Linked DNA regions of Homo sapiens: region 2 is linked to region 1. Evidence: fine-mapped expression QTL. Tissue or cell type: blood mononuclear cells. Region 1 holds a variant in brackets; the other region holds the start of a gene. All regions are shown on one strand. Distances are from middle to middle.

Region 1 (5,225 bases):
TTACTTTTGCTCCAACCTATTCATATTAATTATATTCTCTTCATGAATATTATTATTCATGAATATTAATTCATATTGTCTTCGTGTGTCTCTCTCCCCACTAAGACTATAAGTTTCTCAGGGGCAGGAACCATATTTTATATTTCCAGGGCCTGGCACATGGTAGGTACCCTATCCATACTTGTGAAATTAATTAATGGATAGCCACATCAAATTCACAAGTATCTTTAAATATAATTTCACATACAACTGCTCTTTTTTTTTTAAGATGGAGTCTCACTCTGTAGCCCAGGCTGGAGTGCAGTGACGCAATCTCGGCTCACTGCAACCTCCACTTCCCGGGTTCAAGCGATTCTCATGCTTCAGCCTCCTGAATAGCTGGAACTACAGGTGCATGCCAGGCTAATTTTTGTATTTTTTTTTTTTTTAGTAGAGACAGGGTTTCATCATGTTGGCCAGGCTGGTCTCGAAACCCGGACCTCAAGTGGTCTGCCTGCCTTGGCCTCTCAAAATGCTGGGATTACAGGTGTGAGCCACTGTGCCTGGCCACATATAACTAATTTTAGGATTTGTTTTCTGTCTTGCGGCTTCCTGGAGGTCAAGTCTTTTGGCTGTGTCTCTAGGCCACCACGGGGTGCAGTGACCAACTTGGGGGGCCATCAGGGGATTCCCTGTAGACAAACTGTCCAGCCCTTCCTAGCATCCTGTTCCTAGTGGGGCACCAGATGGGCACAGAGCAGGAGTCAGCAGTTAAGGGTGAGCCCCAGAAGGAGCAGAGGAAAGAAAACACGAAGTGAGGAGAGCAGGAAGCAAGACTTCTCCTTCGGCTTTCCGTGGCCCTGGGAGCTGAGCACTGCTGCCAAGCAAACAGTGGTGTGGAGGAGCGAGAAGGAGAGCCCAGGCTGGATGTGGTCGGCCGCTGGGTGGAGTTAAAATGTATAACAAGGGAGAGGCAACTGAAGAAAAGAAAAGATTCTTTTAAAAATTCTGCTCTAGCCTAATTAAAAAAAATTCCACTCCCTCATGCTACGTTTTAAGAGACTGCCCTTTCAGAATTATTTTCAGTCTGGTGGTAACAGGCAGGAAGAGTGTCAGATGTTCACCAAGCTATAAAGAGGACACTCCCCACCCTCTAAAACACAGGGCCAGCCCCCACATTGCTTTTCTGACTTGGGTTATGAGGATACAGGATGTGAAGTTGTCAAAGGCATAGATCTTTCCGGAAAGGAGTGTCCCATGTGGTAGATTAAAAAAAAAAAAAATGGCTACAGTATTTTGCAGCTCCTCCCACCAAGACGTGGAGTCAGTTTCACCAGCCCTTGAATCTGGGTTATACTACTCACGGGACATCAGGACACCTAATGCAAGCAGAAGCTTGACAAGCACTTGCACAGAGGGGTTTGCTCTCTTTTGCTATTTTTGGAATCCAGCCATCATGTGAAGAAGTCTAGACTGGCTTACTAGATCCTGGAGACACATAGCCTGGTCACCCTTGTGGATCCCTCCCAGGTTCCAGGCACATAAGTGATACCATCTGGGACCACCAGGCCTCAGACAGTCCTCACCTGACTGTAGCCACATACACAAGTTCAGGTGAACTCAACAGAAGAACTTCCAAGCTAAGCCCAACCCAAACTGCCAGCCTCCAGGATGGTGAGCTAATTAACAATTGTTGTTTTAAGTCTCTAAGTTTTGGATATTTTAAAAATATGGTGCTATGGTCTCAATGTTTGAGTCACCTGGAAATTAATATGTTGAAACCTAATCCCCAATTTAGGGGCATTAAGAGGTAGAGTCTTTGGGAAGTGATTAGGTTATGAGGGTAGAGCCCTCCTGAATGGGACTCATGCCCTTATAGAAGAGGCCTGGGGGAGCTTGTTTGCCCCTTCTGCAATATGAAGACCCAGTAAGAAGATGCCATTTATGAGGAATGGGACTTCATGAGATACCAAATTTGCCAGTACATTGATCTTGGACTTCTCAGGCTCTAAAACTGTGAGAAATACATTTCTATTGTTTATAAGTTACCCAGTCTGTGGTGTTTTGTTATAGCAGTACAGATGGACTAAGACAGATGGCAAAACCAACCAACCAACCAACTAATACAGTTTGAGTCACAGGTGGGAAAATCCATGTAGAAATAACCACTTTACAACCTTGTATAGGAGAGCTATTATAATAGTGTGTTTTGGCCTGTTCCGGCTGCCGTAACAAAATACCATAAACTGGGTAGCTTTTAAGCAGCAGAAATATATTTGTCCCAGTTCTGGAGGCTGGGAAGTTCAAGATCAAGGCACTGGGGACGGCAGATCTGCTGTCCGGTGAGGGCCTGCGTTCTGGTTCATAGATGATGTCTCCTTGCTGTGCCTTCATGTGGTGGAAGGAGCAAGCTAGCTCTCTGGGTCTCTTTTATAAGATCACTAATTCCATTCATTCATGAGAGCTCCACCCCTATGACCTAATCACTTCCCAAAGTCCCCACCTCCTGATATCATCACATTGAGGATTAGGTTTCAACATTCAGACCATACCCTAGAGCGATTCAGAGTGCGGGCTTTGGAGCCAGGCAGGTTCAGTCCCACCACTTAGATATAATCCTGGACACGTTTGATAGCAACGGTAACAGTGACAGTACATGCTTTGCAGGGTTGTAATGAGAACTGTGTCGGCCAGGGTCACACATCTGTATTAGGATAACTTGAGGAGAGTTTATAAAGGGACTATTACATCTACAAAGATGTGGTCAGGGTTCAGGGAAACACAAGAGAGAGTGTAGCGCACTGGGGTTGTGATAGCACCCAGGTGGGAAGCAAGGACAGGGCATGGTGACGAGAAGCTGGGGACAGAGCAGGTGGGGTCAAGAGGGTTGCTTAACAGGACCCATAACCTTGTGTTGAGAAATGAGTCTGTTCTGCAGTGACATGGCTGGGAGGGGGCTGGGAGAATACAAACTCTGATCTAACT[T/G]CTTCCTCTTGCCTATTTTTGCCAGTGATCCTCATTGGCCAAACCCAACTGGAAGCCACTGGGCTTCAAATCAGCCTCCTGTGGCAAAAAGCAAGGTGGAGAAGGTGAGAGAGTAGATCTGGGGCAAATGGAAGGTATCCAGCCCATGGATTTAAAAGCAATAATGCATAGGAAAGCCCTGATCATGTACCTAGCACCCAGTCACTGTTTGCTGTAATATTATTATATTATCGGAAGAAACCAAGAGCTGTGGGTGGCAGAAGAGGAATTGAGCTGTTTTTTTTTTTTTTTTTTTGCTAGGGTGACCTGCAGAATACTCATGGAGGAGGTCTGCTTTGAGTTGTGGCTTGGAGAGATGAAGAAAATAATAGAGCAAACATTGACATGGAACCTACTATGTGCAGGTACCATTCTGGATGTCGTACATACATTAATTTATTTAATCTTCATAGCCACTTTATGGGGTAGGTACTGTGATGGTTAATACTGAATGTCAATTTGATTGGATTGAAGGATATAAAATATTGATCCTGGGTGTGTCTGTGAGGGTGTTGCAGAAGGAGATTCACATTTGAGTCAATGGGCTGGGAAAGGCAGACCCACCCTTAACCTGGGTGGGCACCATCTAATCAGCTGCCAGTGCAGCTAGAATATAAGCAGGCAGAAAAATGTGAAGAGAGAGACTCCCTAGCCTCCCAGCGTACATCTTTCTCCTGTACTGGATGCTTCCTGCCTTCGAACACTGGACTCCAAATTCTTCAGTTTTGGAACTTGGACTGGCTCTCCTTGCTCCTCAGCCTGTAGATGGCCTATTGTGGGAAGCTGTGATCGTGTGAGTTAATACTTAATAAACTCCCATATATATATATGTGTGTATATATGTATATATATATGCATATATATACACACACACACATATCTATTCCATTAGTTCTGTCCCTCTAGAGAACCCTAATACCGTACCATTATTATCCCACTTCACAGATGAGAAATTGAGGCAAAGAGAAGTTAGATAACTCAGTCAAGGTCATACAGTAATAAGAAATGGAGCCAGGATTTGAACCAATTTCAAAGAGGGTGTGGGACACAGCATTTGTTTCTTAGGCACATAGCTGAAAAATGCACAGAGAGGAAGCAGTGAGTCATCCACAGGGACTAGTATGGGGTTTGTGCTAGAGAATGGGGAAAGACAGAGAATGGGGAGAGAGCCAAGGACCAGAATGATGGGTGGAGGAATTTGTCCTCCATTCTGGGAGGCTCTGGGAAGCCACTGAGGACTTCAGAGAAGAGAAAGGCAATCACAGCGGGGCACCAGGAAATTTATCCGTGTGCAAGGCCAAACTAACAAAGCAGGGAGCAACTGGAAGCCAGGCAATCAGCGAGAGGATACTGCAGAGGTCCAAGCACTAGGTGATGAGGGCTTGAATGAGGATGATAGCAGCCTAGATGGAGGGAAGAGACAAGGGCATTGCGCTGCTAGGGGAAGCACAACAGGACTTGGGGACTGAAGTACTGGATGTGTCAAGCGGGGACTGAAGAAACAGAAACAGATGGGAGGTTTGGGAGCCACGTGATAGGTGAATGATAGTATTAGATGTATCATTCAGCCACACTTAGGGTACACGTTGGAAAAAAAGTGTACGTCAGCCAGTCTTGTGTGTTCTTTGGTTGCAGTGCACATGTTAATAAGTTGTACCACTCCCACACACTGCAGTCAGTTGCGAAATAGCAATCTATTTTGCAATATCAGCTCCTGGTAAATTTCACTTGTGAGCCTGGAACAAGGATGGGGGTGGATTCAAGGACCGCCCCCTGAGGTGGTGAGAAGACCAGGGATTGCAGGACATTGTGAGATTCTTTCTGGGGCAGCTGGAAGGATGCTTGGTTGCCCAGCGACAATCCTGCCTCCGCAGCAGTCTTGGTTTCCTGCAGTCCCGGATGCATCTCATTAAAAGGACAGAGGGATGGATGGCCGACACATTTTCTGAAGTGGCATTTTCAACGTCCTGAGTCCTGGTATCTTGTTTATAAGTGGCACTTACAAAATACAAGGGAAAGAAAAAGAAAACGGGAGAGGAAGAAAGGTCTCCTAGGATCTCAAGCATGCAGTGCGTGGATCTTGACTCTCCAATTTCAGCTTGTCTAAGAGACGGGGTGCAGGGCCTCCTTGAAATCCACCTGAAATGAATTAGCCTGAAGTAAAAGTAGGTGTTTATCTCAAGTCATTGCCTCAAATAGCTGACTACCTGTTGGAAGAAGGG
Region 2 (5,225 bases), 77 kb before region 1:
TCTGAGCCCTGAAGCATTTCCAGATTCTTACTGATACTTTGTAGGTGGAAGAAAAAAAGCTCCTACCCCTGAAAGATACACCAAAAAGGAACAACTGCACACAGTGACAATAAGGACATGTTTCCTGGATGCTAGAACTAAGCCACATCACCACTAGCCCTAGAAATACTTTTCCAGCAGTCTGTAATCACAGATTTATTCTAATGAACTAACCACTTTTGGGTCACCAAAGATGAGCCAGGCCGGTCCTGGGAGTGTCTAGCAAGCATCATTTAAAGTCATAATGATGAAAACTAAATCTCGCTTATTTTAGCTCCTTGCCACTGGGCTGTCCAATTGGCACTGAGTTGACACAGCAGTTAAATTCAACCTCAAAGCAGCAAGAAGGCAGGCACTTCACTGTCCTGGTGGGAAGAGCCAGGCAGGGGCCTGTGGAGGGCACCGTTTTAGATGGGCCTTTCCAACCCTCCCTTAACATTCATTTGTGCAAACAAAAAATGGAAGAAAAGGAACCAAAATTAAGTTTCAGGTGGTTGGGGAAGCAGCATGGATTTACATTATTATTATTATTATTATTATTATTATTATTATTATTATTATTGAATAGTTAGCAAGTGTTTCTCAATAGTTCCCTGTTCATCAACACTGTTTTCAGGAGAAATGGAAAACAGTAGCTCTATTTCATAGAAAGTACAGCCATTTCAAAAAAAAAAAAAAAAGTGGGGGGGGGTTGTTGAGAGAGGGAAGTGACCCATGTCATAAAGACAGAAGGTCTCCAAGTCACTTAATTCCTTGTGATTCTGAAAGGGCTGTTTTTAAAGTCTAAAAGTGCTCGCTTCTGCATCTGCTCCATGTTGTTAAATAACACTTGTGTAATTAAATAAAAGAGCCAACTGTGACCCCAGCCCACTCTGAGAGGCACTTTACATGCTTTCTGAAAACTATGCTGGAAACACCATGAGGAGAACTCCTTAGTCCTGTAATTTAGCAAAGGGAGAGAGAAAAAGTTTCTTTTGGCCATCATAGCTACACACTCTCTGAAAGGGTGCCTGCAGGGTCTCTGCAAAACAGAATGAACACAAATACAGGCGTGCAAACATCCAGGTATGTACCTCTCTGTGAAGACCCCATTCTTGAAACCCTTCAATTATTTGGAACCGTGGTCTCCTGACTTCCCTCACACCTCACTTTTGCCTTCATTGTTTTTCATGTTTGAGTAGCAAGAGGGATTCAGAATCTCAGGCTGCCAGTGGCTGTTCTGATAACAAGGAGCAGACTCATGTTTCTTGCTACGGCCTTTCTTGATCAGGTTACCTTGGAAGGTGTATGTTTTCCTACCCAATGCAGTCCCCACCACAGCACTCTCGTGTCCTCCTCCAGCCCAGCCTCCTGGAACTCGTGATTTTCAGGGTTTCCCTTGAAACCTATCCAGAAACCACAGCCATTAACTGAACGTGAAGATTTGACACCTCCTGAATTCAGGAATGAGGGAACTCGAGGGGCCAACTCTACAAACTCGCACCTGCTGCTTGACGGCAAGGAAACAGAGTTTCCCCAGCTAGGGTGAGCTTTAAATTATACACTATTTATTTAGTGACTTGTCTCCAAGGATCTCAAAGCATAGAGAGAAATAAGATGATGTGTAACTTTCTCACAATCTACCTTCAAGGCTTTGCCCTGGTGCATTCTGACAAGCAGGACCCAGTATGAAGGAGAGGCCTTCCTTCTGTGCCCAGGCAGAGCCATCTGTTCTCTCTGGGGTTTTCTGTCAGTGGCTTTAGGGAGTCTTCAAGGACTGTTAAATGACACAGAGGGTGGGGGGAGGGATGACCCTCCTGGATTCACCTGCTCACGGCTTTCACTTAAGCCAGTTTAACACAGGAGGTACCACTGTGCCACGCAATTCCCTCTTAGCACACACCATGCGTGAGCTGCAGTCTTTGCCCTCCAGGCCTTTTCCTATCATAACACAGGTGTGTCCAAGGCAGAAAAGAACATTTTCCAGAAGGTTCGTTTCCCTCCAAGCCTACAATGCTTCTTTTTGTTGTTATTGTTTTTCTGCTACTGACCTAAACATAGGCATTCCTCCTCCTAACAGGATAAAAATCTTGACTCTCTCCTTTGCATCAGCTCCCCACCCCGCCCCTGCCCAAGGAAATAAATGCTCTGACTTTTCCAAGAGTGCGAAAAAACTAAAATTAGAGGGTGGACAAGATGATCTCCAAAGGTGCCCTCCAGCTCCAAAACTCTGATTCTCCCTTTAATTACTCCACAAGCGCATTCTTCACATTGTTTCGAACTGACCAGCGACTTCTCCAGGGCTGAAAAGGGTGCATTTTTAGGCGGAGGCACCCAAACTTCTAAATGACACCAGTACCACAAGTATTCAGAAGGCAGGAACTAATCCAAAAGCAGACTCAGGAAAGGAGGAGGGAGGGGAGGACAGAGGGAAGGGAAGGAAGGAGGAAGGAAGAGCTTTACTGTGTGCCCAGCAGAATTTAGGCGCTCTCACCCTAGGTAGGTGGCAACTGGAGTCTGGGAGTTCAAGTGCATCCAGCCTGCCCTTCCCCCACACGCCCCAAGAGAATGGGAAGTTCAGCCAAGACTCGCAGCACCTGCCCGCGGCTCCAGGCCGGCTGCGCGGACCCGGAGGGAGGCTGCACTCACCTGGCACACCAAGCCTCCGCGCACCTCCGGAGGGAGGCGGCACTTGCAGGTCCGGGGGCCGCGCCGCCATGCGCAACAACGGGAAATTCCAGTGGCACCCGAGCCCCGAGCTCACCCACCCCAGGCGGCATGCTCCCCACCTCCCGCTGGCCCCAGGACTCGGAGGTGGCTCTGGTCAGGAGCAGGGGGCCCGGAGACAGGGGAGGGGAGCTCATGGTGGCGGCAGGGCTGGCGGTCGGCCCGTCCCCGGAGGGAGGTCCCCGGGACGCGGCGGGGATTCACCCACGGGGCGCGGCGCTGGCGTCCGGGTCCCCGGCCTGCCCGCCGCCGCCGCCTCCTCCTCTGCCGCCGCCCGCCCGGAATCGCTTTATGTAAATGAAGCCCAACTCGCAGTTTGCAGCGCGCACCGCCCGGGGAAGGGGGGCGGGCGGGGCGGGGGGCCTTCGGGGATCCACATTACACAGCAACAAAGCGGAAGGTTAATTTGAAACTCACAGCCCCGCTGCCGCTCGGCTCCCCGGGCAAAGCCTGACATCTACAGTCGTGCCGGGCGCAGGCCGGGTTGCTCGGCGGCGACCGCGCCCGCCCGCCCGCAGGGACCCGGGGACGCACAGGGACGCGCGGGACCCGGGCGCTCAGCTGCGCTCGCTCCGCTTGGGGCGCGGGCCTTGGGGCAGGCCGGGGGTCCCGCGCACCCGCCTGGGGCCAGGAACCCTCGCCGCTCGGCCTGCGCCGCCCCGGGAACCGGCCCCGGCGGGAACAAAGCCCAGGCCCTCCCGGAGGCGCTGACCCCTCGCTCATCAAAGGTCAGGGGCCGGCCTAGAATCGGGCGAGAAGAAAGGGACGCGCCCTCGGCCACTAAAAGGAGCCTGAGGCCTCCGAACCGGAGCCATCGCTCCCTGGGCCCCGTCCACGTCACAGCCAGGCCACTCAAGCATGGGGACAGGAGCCAATGTGGACAGGAATTTATTGGAAACACACACCCATCCTATTAACTGCTTTACAGAGCACTTCTGTTTTTCAGTTGCAGAAACTTATAAAAACATCCCCCTGCTCTCCGTTGAGAGTTTAAGGATAGTTTTTGAGGCCAGAGAAAGAGAAAAGGAGAGATCACTAGAAAGATAGGAAGAAAAGAAGTGGGAAGAAAAGGAGATGCAGTCTACCATGTAAGCCTCCAGGCTCCTTAGCCTCACCTTATAAAGCCACATCACCGCAGAGATAGCAAAGATCGTGCCCTTTCCCAGGGAGTTCCTACCGCCAGGGTAAGATTTAAAGCGGCCACCCCAGTTGGTCAAAGTGATTGCTGGGCGCCTTTCTATCTCCCCAAGTTCACCTTTTCCAGTTGGTCAAAGCGATTGCTGGGCGCCTTCTATCTCCCCAAGTCCACCTTTTTCCATTCTCATCTGAAAGCCAGCCCCAAAGAAATCTCACCGGAAGTCCTCTGTCCTCCCTGTCAGAATCCCACCCTCAGTCTGAATTTACTCCCGATTCTCACAGCACAGAAAGGCACCTGCTTTTACCCTTTCTGAAAACCACCCACCCAGGCTGGCCTTACAGCCTGGAGAGTCTTTTCCTCGGGCACAATAATGAACCATGCAAGTGTTAGAAATATAATCAGCTCATGAGGCGAAGAGCAGTATGTATGGAATTGTATTAGCATGAGGCACACACTGACTCGGGAGAAAAAGGGATGCTTAGCTGGTGAAAACCATCACATCCCCGTATAGAAGGCTTTTTGCACAATGTAAGTTGGGTTCAGATTAATGTAAGTATCTAACCTGTTGGGTACAGACAGCCCCTTTCTACATTTTAGTCCAGAATAGATTCTGGGGAAATTTATTTATTTATTTATTTATTTCAGCTAAGGCCCTGGGAGAAAAGACTGCCTCCAGGGAATCATGTCCGATTAGGGACAAAGGAGGGCACAAGCCCAATTCAGTCACACGTGAGAGCACGGGGGCCGGGTGGGGGGAGTTAAGAGCCAACAGGGAAGGTGGAGGATGAGTTTGCAAACCAGACTATGGTCACTGCAGAGCTGCTTCCAGACCACCTGACTTCAGGCCCAAGAACAGGTGGTGTTTTCAAAACACACTGTTATTTATATTGGCCATATAAGTTGAGAACACCTTAAAGAAAACAATTAATAATTTAATTGAAAAAGTGACTATGAATAAGACATGAAGATGACGTATGCTAGCAGGACCGCAAGCAACGTGGCCCACAACGCAGAGATGCCTCTGGCAATCTCTCCGGAAAAACGAAGATTCCTTACCTGGGATAGGTAAGGCCTGCTGGATAAATTAAAGACAACAAGAAAATGTTGATACTCTCAGAAAATCTAATTTTGCTGCTTTATCTTCATTTTTATTAACAGGGGACAACCTCGTAATCTGGTGACATCATGATCCTGGTAGGCCCACAGACAAATACCTTCAATAAAATAAAAGCTAGAAAGCCCAAAGAACAAGCTATTAAAGTAACCTGGGAGGATGCAGCACTGCCTGGGCAGAAGGCCCGGACGGGATCTGCCCTAATACTGCCACTGTCCCAAGAGGCAG

The links. PIP is the estimated chance that this variant, and not a neighbour inherited with it, causes the effect.
Region 2: ZFHX3 starts here. The variant in region 1 is fine-mapped to the expression of ZFHX3 in blood mononuclear cells (TOPMed, PIP 0.95).

Annotation. Positions count from the first base shown.
Region 1 is chr16:73,121,959-73,127,183 of GRCh38, forward strand. It overlaps a transcript of ZFHX3 not described here. Among named protein-coding and RNA genes, the nearest start is that of HCCAT5, 32 kb to the left of the region's middle. RefSeq lists enhancers at 1,067-1,276, 2,144-2,643. The variant T/G (reference allele first, on the strand shown) is at 2,965.
Region 2 is chr16:73,045,085-73,050,309 of GRCh38, forward strand. It overlaps ZFHX3 (zinc finger homeobox 3), which reads right to left and starts at 3,044. Exons shown (of 10, transcript NM_006885.4): 1 at 2,668-3,044. It overlaps LOC124903719 (a long non-coding RNA gene), which reads left to right and starts at 2,494. Exons shown (of 2, transcript XR_007065116.1): 1 at 2,494-2,716; 2 at 5,042-5,225. RefSeq lists enhancers at 2,338-2,873, 3,410-3,945 and a silencer at 2,635-3,484.